Linked DNA regions of Homo sapiens. The protein of the gene in region 2 purifies or fractionates together with the protein of the main gene of each other region. This does not show direct contact. Each region holds a gene or a part of one and is shown on either strand. Other genes may lie near its edges.

The links.
Region 1: the proteins of RCC2 (region 2) and PAK1IP1 purify together in Homo sapiens (affinity purification with mass spectrometry, with the first as the bait; one study listed by BioGRID). This does not show direct contact.

What each region holds. Positions count from the first base shown.
Region 1 is NC_000006.12:10,697,962-10,701,772, reverse strand, and holds part of PAK1IP1 (p21-activated protein kinase-interacting protein 1), read right to left. Parts: intron 1-3,811. UniProt on the Homo sapiens protein: Negatively regulates the PAK1 kinase. PAK1 is a member of the PAK kinase family, which has been shown to play a positive role in the regulation of signaling pathways involving MAPK8 and RELA.
Region 2 is NC_000001.11:17,418,947-17,422,757, forward strand, and holds part of RCC2 (protein RCC2), read right to left. Parts: coding exon 3,759-3,811; intron 3,346-3,758; coding exon 3,257-3,345; intron 1,883-3,256; coding exon 1,768-1,882; intron 1-1,767. UniProt on the Homo sapiens protein: Multifunctional protein that may affect its functions by regulating the activity of small GTPases, such as RAC1 and RALA. Required for normal progress through the cell cycle, both during interphase and during mitosis.

The DNA.
Region 1 (3,811 bases), on a different chromosome or scaffold from region 2:
TTTGAGCAGAAGTAAACAAAACTAATCAGCTAACAAGCTAATCTGGGGAACAAACCAGGTGTACTGCCACATGACTTCCACTTTCTAAACAGTGAATTAGCTACCCAATCAGCCACAATCCAATCCTTATCACTCAGATCTGTTTTGATCCATTTCCACACACTTCTCATTCATTTGTTCATATTTTCCTCTCCCTATTATCCTATTTCTCACTTTGGAAAGTTTGGTTTCCCACATTTGCTTCCCTAGAAAAAAGCTTATCTATTAGCAACTCTTAGAAAAATAGGATTTATGCACCCATAAAAAGGAATGAGATCATGTCCTTTGCAGGGATGTGGATGGAGTTGGAAGCCATTATCCCCAGCAAACTAATGCAGGAAGAGAAAATTAAACACTGGCTAGGCGAGGTGGCTCATGCCTGTAATCCCAGCACTTTGGGAGACCGAGACAGGCAGATCACTTGAGGTCAGGAGTTCAATACCAGCCTGGCCAACATGGCGAAACCCCGTCTCTACTGAAAATACAAAAATTAGCTGGATGTGGTGGTGTGTGCCTGTAGTCCCAGCTACTCAGGAGGCTGAGGCACAAGAATCGCTTGAACCCGGGAGATGGAGGTTGCAGTGAGCCGAGCTCTGCCACTGCACTCCAGCCTGGGTGACAGAGAAAGACTGCATCTCAAAAAAGAAGGAAAGAAAGAAATAGAAAAGAAAAGAAAAAGAAAACCAAACACCACATGTTCTCACACAGGGGAAAAACAACACACACTGGGGCCTGTGGGAGGGGAAGGGTTGCGGGAAGGAGAGCATTAGAAAGAACAGCTAATGGATGCTGGGCTTAATACCTAGGTGATGGGATGATCTGTAAAGCAAACCACCATGGGACGTTTACCTACGTAACAAACCTGCACATCCTGCATGTGTACCCCTGAACTTAAAAGTTGAAGGAAAAAAAGAAAAAAGAAAAAAAGGATTTATACAAGAAATAAAGGAAACCAAGAAACCAAGAGCCCTACTTCATTCACCCCCCAATCTAAACTCCTTCTATGTAATTCCTTTTCTTATTGTTGAACACTTGTACTAATGGGTTTGGGCAGATCAAATTTAACTTATTTCTTCCAAACCTGAGAGAGAAGCCTTCTTTGTAACAAACTAGGACTAGGAGATAGAGAAAAAAAGAATGTATATTTGAATCACTCAAAGCTCAGCTTCTGATGAAGAGCAAGACAGCTGTTAAAGCAGCAATGGACAGTCTGCCATGTGTGAAAGTGTCCCCCAAAATTCATTTGCTGAAACTTAGTTGCCAATGTGATAGTTTAAGAGGTGAGACCTTTAGGAGGTGATGGTGACTAAGTCATAAGGGCAAACCCTCATGAACGGGATTAGAGGACTGGCGACATTATAAAAGTTGTTTTTTTTGGCAGGGCGCGGTGGCTCACGCCTGTAATCCCAGCACTTTGGGAGGCTGAGGCGGGCGGATCACTTGAGGTCAAGAGTTCAAGACCAGCTTGGCCAACATGGTTAGACCCGTCTCTACTAAAAATACAAAAATTAGCTGGGCGTGGTGGCAGGCACCTATAATCCAAGCTACCTGGGAGGCTGAGGCAGGAGAATCGCTTAAACCCAGGAGGCAGAAGCTGCAGTGAGCCGAGATCGCGCCACTGCACTCCAGCCTGGGTGACAGAGCGAGAAGCCCCCCCGCCCCCGCCAAAAAAAAAGTTGTTTTTTTCGTTTGTTTGTTTGCTTTTTTTAAACTGGCTCCAACTCTCAAGCTTGACCTTACAGAATTGTGCAGGGATCTGCTTTGCCCTTCTACCATGAGGACACAGCAACAGAGAGCCAGTCCTTACGAGACAAGAAAATCTGCTGGTGCCTTAATCTTAGACTTCCCAGCCTCTACAACTGTGAGAAATAAATCTCTATTATTGATAAATTATTCAGTCTAAGGTATTTTGTTATAGCAGTCTGAATAAACTAAGGGAACACCTAATAGAAGGAAGCCATTTATCGCTGCAAATTTACTGCTGGAAACCAATGCCTGGTGTGGATCCTCTGAAATACATGTAAGATTGGGTAGGAAAAAGGGCACCATTTTATCTGCCTTTCTTTGCAGAAAACCAACTTTCTTGGCTGAGTTACTCCTCATTCTCTGTCCCCTGGGAAAATGCAACAAAAACAGCATAAAATGTTTGGTACTGAAGAAAAAAATTTACCTGTTCAGTCTTTCTCTCCCTTGATTCTGCCACTATCCTGGGTACCTTGACCACCAGTGTGGAAAACCAAACCACAAGCCGGGAACTGTAGTACTACTTCTTGACTTCAACTCCAGTGACCTTTGCCTCCCCTGCATTTCAGTCCCCTACACCCACAGCCTGGGCATCGTTACCACATAGAGCTGTTCCACGTTAGAACTCTTGACCTCTAGGAAGCTATTTGCTGACCACAAGCTCACATCTTCCCATCCCTTTCATGCCTCTCTGCACTCACACTCCACCTGCTTTTGTATTTCAGAGATCTCCAGGCCCTTGACAACACATTTTCTTTTCTTTTCCTCTTTTTTTTTTTTTTTTTTTTTTGAGACAGAGTCTCGCTCTGTCGCCTAGGCTAGAGTGCAGTGGCACAGTCTCAGCTCACTGCACACTCTGCCTCCCCAGGTTCAAGCGATTCTCCTGCCTCAGCCTCCTAAGTAGCTGGGACTACAGGTACGTGCCACCATGCCCAGCTAAGGTTATGTATTTTTCGTAGAGACGGGGTTTCTCCTTGTTAGCCAGGATGGTCTCAATCTCCTGACCTCACGCTCGGCCCACCTCGGCCTCCCAAAGTGCTGGGATTACAGGCGCGAGCCACCGCGCCTGGCCTTTGACAACACATTTTCTCTATGTTGACAACCTAATCCACTCCTTCACCAAAATTCTTAATTCTCTTGTAACTCAATCCTTCTACCGCACACACCAAGTAACCTTCCTCTCTCTAGGGAAATGTCTGTGGCTTATTACTGAATAAACTCAGAAAATCTTGCAAACTGATGTTACTCAATCCGTAGCTGCCAATTCCAATGGGGCAGGCCTTCATCAGTCCTTCTGTTGGGGTTCTCAGTCAGCACCCCTCCGATACAAACTGGCAGTACTTTCCTCAAGCCCACATCATTCATTTGCTAGCTTGCTCCCTCCCTCCCTCCCAATTCAGTCTCTAACTGGCTCTCTCAAGGACTCCAGGATCTGGTCCCATCTACTTCTCTAGCCCCTCAAACTCCCAATTTAACCTTCTCATAATCCGGAACTGCTTACGGTTCCCTATGAACACCAGTGGTCAAAAGCATGGGCTCTAGGCCCAGGTTCAAGTTCTAGTTCCAGTGTTTGAGACCTTCGGCAAGTCAAGTAACATCTTTGAAACTAGGTGTTCTCTTCTACTTTCTTGGCACACAGAGGGGTACATAATATGCCCTCAATAAAGTCAGATATTGCTATGACGCTACATCTTTGAAACTAGGTGTTCTCTTCTACTTTCTTGGCACACAGAGGGGTACATAATATGCCCTCAATAAAGTCAGATATTGCTGTGACGCTACATCTTTGAAACTAGGTGTTCTCTTCTACTTTCTTGGCACACAGAGGGGTACATAATATGCCCTCAATAAAGTCAGATATTGCTATGATGCTACTACTTGTGCTCCTCACACTGCCGGCTCTGCCTGGAATGTCCTTTCTCCCTCCTTGCAAACTTTACCTGCCCAATAACTGACATTTCTCTTTTAAGATAATTCAGATGTCATTTTAAGGAAGGTTTCAGTGAAAACCTCACTCTGACTGGGTTAA
Region 2 (3,811 bases):
AAAGAGCTGCACACATCTGCTTTCTCCAGAAGTACAGGACAGAAGCTACTCCAGAAAACATCGAACAGCGGGCTTCCCTGTCCCTCTAGAGGGGTGACAGCTCTTTAAAATAAAGTTAAATGGCATGGCTGGGCACGGTGGCTCATGCCTGTAATCCCAACACTTTGGGAGGCCGAGGCGGGTAGATCACTTGAGATCAAGCGTTTGAGACCAGCCTGGTCAACATGGTGAAACCCCGTCTCTACTAAAAATACAAAAAAAAGTTAGCTGGGTGTGGCAGCGGGCGCCTGTAGTCCCAACTACTTGGGAGACCGAGGCAGGAGAATTGCTTGAACCAAGGAGGTGGAGGTTGCAGTGAACTGAGATCACACCACTGCACTCCATCCCGGGTGACAGAGGGAGACTCCGTCTTTCTTATCTTGGCGTTGCCCAGCCCAGTTCAGTGCACTGCAAAAAAGGGGGCACAAGGCATGAGTGTGTGTGGATGAGACACGGCCATAGTCGGATTTAGGTTCATTCTAAAAGTGATCTATCTGGATTTGGACAACGAAACAAACACCTGCCTTAAAGCAAGTAATACGCTGAGAATAAGCGATTCTGTAGCTACAAATCAAGCCGATTTCCAAACTACCTGCAAGTTGAGTGTAACTGAGCACCTGCGAATTTGTACAAAGTGCTTACATGGTGCCTGGCACACACAGTCACTGCTCCATGAAAGTGAGCCGTTTTTATCACCAACAGCATGTCATGCTTCCTGACGGAAAATCGACTTGCCGGGGTGCAGAGGGGAGGCCAAGGCAGCAGGAGCGCGCACGTGGCAGGAAGCGGACCGCTGCTGGGCACCGCAGCAGGGCTGTGGCCATGGAAACCGCTCTCCAACTGTCTCGGGCTCCACCACGGCAACCAACGCGAAATGTGAAATGTGCGTAAGGGGCTGTTCTCTCTTATTCACTTCTGACTTGAAGTATATTTAGTTTCACAAAGTCACTGTTCCCCGAGGCTAAGGCCAGCGGGCTCGGCGCTATTTTTACCTTTTCCATCTGCCAGGCGCTGCGGCTGCAGGAGCGCGCGCGGCCAGCAGAGGGCGCCCGCGCCACACCTCGCGGAGGCCTCCCCAGAGGGGCTGGAGTGGAGGCAGAGCCACAACCGGGAAGCGCACTTCAGGGAACCGCACTTAGGGTCCGATGGGAAGGAGAATGGAGACCATCAGGTCGGAAGACACTCCCCCCACTAACTGAGAACTGATGCCTGAATTCTCCTTTTCCACCAATGAGATCGAAGAAACAAGTTTCTGGACAACTAGATTCTGGCTAGGGATGACGCACGGGGAGGGGGTCCACCAGGGCTCCTCACGTGGCAACCCGAAATAATCGCCCAGGCCAGGGTTTCCAGAACAACGTTCATTTTCCGTAATTTTCTCATTTTCAATAAAGGCATAATCTTTAAATGTGAAATTGAATGAAGGTGGTCTGATTTTTTTTTAACTTTGAAATCCCTTTATATAAATGAATTCCCAAATCAGAAAAAAAGAAATCTTTTGTAGGACTCCAGTCCCAACTTTTCCATTGAGGCAGTGTTGCAATACTCCATAATCCTGTGAATGAGGACGCGCTGTTCTGCTGAACGTGAGATCCACTTAACGGACAAAGGCTATTATCTGAGATCAATTACCCACATTTCTAACACGTGTGTGCAGCCCCACACTGATCTCTAGTTCTGAATATATACAGTTAGATTACAGAGCTTTTAAAAAATGTACTTCCATACCCAGCTGACCATATTCAGGGCACCCAAAGGAATAGAGGTTTCCTTTGCAGTCCATTATCATACTGAATTCAGCCCCACAGGCCATTTTGGTAATTGGCTGGCCGTTGTACATTATCTGAAAAGACAAGAAAGGAGACTTTCATTTTTTTTAAAGACTGATAAAAAGCCTCTACCTCTCTGCATGTTGGTGGGAAACAATTACTAGGTTACAAACGGAAGTTTAATAAACTCAGTAATTCTGAAGGCAAAAGCTGAAGGCATTTCTAGAACACAAAGCTTAGAAGATATGTAAAGAAGCACCCTCAGACCCCCACCCTCCCAGCACAGAGCAGTTCAAAGCCTAGCCACTGTCTCTTTAAGATCAATAAAACCAAGTCCCTCCCTTCCTTCATCACCTAGACCACTAATTAGGCACTTAGCATTCTTCTGCCTTTAGTAGTAGTTTGTTTTTAAGGTATAAATCTCACCCCTCCAACTCAAGTTTCTTAGAAAAAAAAAGACTGCCTATCTCCTGGGCGCGGTGGCTCACACCCAGCACTTTGGGAGGCCGAGGCAGGCAGATCAGGAAGTCAAGAGATGGAGACCATCCTGGCCAACATGGTGAAACCCCATCTCTACTAAAAATACAAAAATTAGCCAGGCGTGGTGGAGCATGCCTGTAGTCCCAGCTACTCGGGAGGCTGAGGCAGGAGAATCGCTTGAATCCGGGAGGCAGAGGTTGCAGTGAGCTGAGATCGCGCCACTGCACTCTAGCCTGGCAACAGAGCGAGACTCTGTCTCCCCTCCAAAAAAAAAAGACTGCCTATCTCGTATTTGTATTCTAAGCATCTGGCTGGTGACTTTATACAAGGTCAAAACAAAGTATTTGGGGGAAGTACAATTACATCCATATAACATCACTCACTTTCTTTGGAACAGAACAGGCTTACGACAAGGCATTTCTAACAGATTTCTCCATTTGGAAACAAAATGTTTTCAGGATGGTTTTCAACCCGACCACAAACTAAGCCTGTTTTAAAAACTATAGCAAGGCTGTGTGCAGTGGCTCACACCTGTAATCCCAGTACTTTGGGAGGCCGAGGTGGGTGGATCACCTGAGGTCAGGAGTTCCAGACCAGCCTGACCAACATGGAGAAACCCCGTCTCTACTAAAAATACAAAATTAGCCAGGTGTGGTGGCACATGCCTGTAATCCCAGCTACTCCAGAGGCTGAGGCCGGGGAATCACTTGAACCCGGGAGGCGGAGGTTGCAGTGAGCCGAGATTGCGCCATTGCACTCCAGCCTGGGCAAAAAGAGTGAAACTCCGTTCTCAAAAAAAAACAAAAAACAAAAAAACAAACAAAAAAACTCTACAGCATGTAACTAAACATCCAGACCCTGTTTTTACAAGGGGTAAATTAACTCAAACGGAGACCCCACCTTAGAAAATCAAACACAAAAGTAAAGAGAAACAAAAAGCCATGGAGCCGGAGCTGAGGAGGGGTCACCTGCGCGGGGCTGGGAACAGCGTCTGTCTGGTTGCCAAGGCCCAGCTGCCCCATCTTGTTTTCCCCAAACGCAAACACGGAGCCCGTTTCTGGAAGAAAGGAAAAATATCACAAAAGGGAAGATAATGGTGAATGTTTTGAACTAGATTTAGAATCAAAGGCATCAAAATAATAAAAACAGCTCATTTGCCAGGCAGAAGGCAAGTGAGACTGCCCAAAAGCTGGCAGTGCAGACGCTTCACAGCAAAGCCATTTCACATCAGAAACTGGGTGTGCAGAGAAACAGAGGGCAGCGTCTCCTACTCCCAGATGGGCCTCCTATGGCCACTGGGGAGGCTCCCAATGCCCTCAAGAAGCCACTCCATGCCAAGGTTCTCAGGGCCTCTTTCTGATCCTGACCAAGAGTCACAAGGGGAACTCCACCACCCCACGCCCCATCCCCAAGGCAGACCACCTGGCCTCTTGCCAAACTGAGAGGAGACACCAGCAGCCACCTCCTTACCCGTCAAGGCCAAGGTGTGGTTCCGCCCACATGCTGCAGACACAATCACTTCG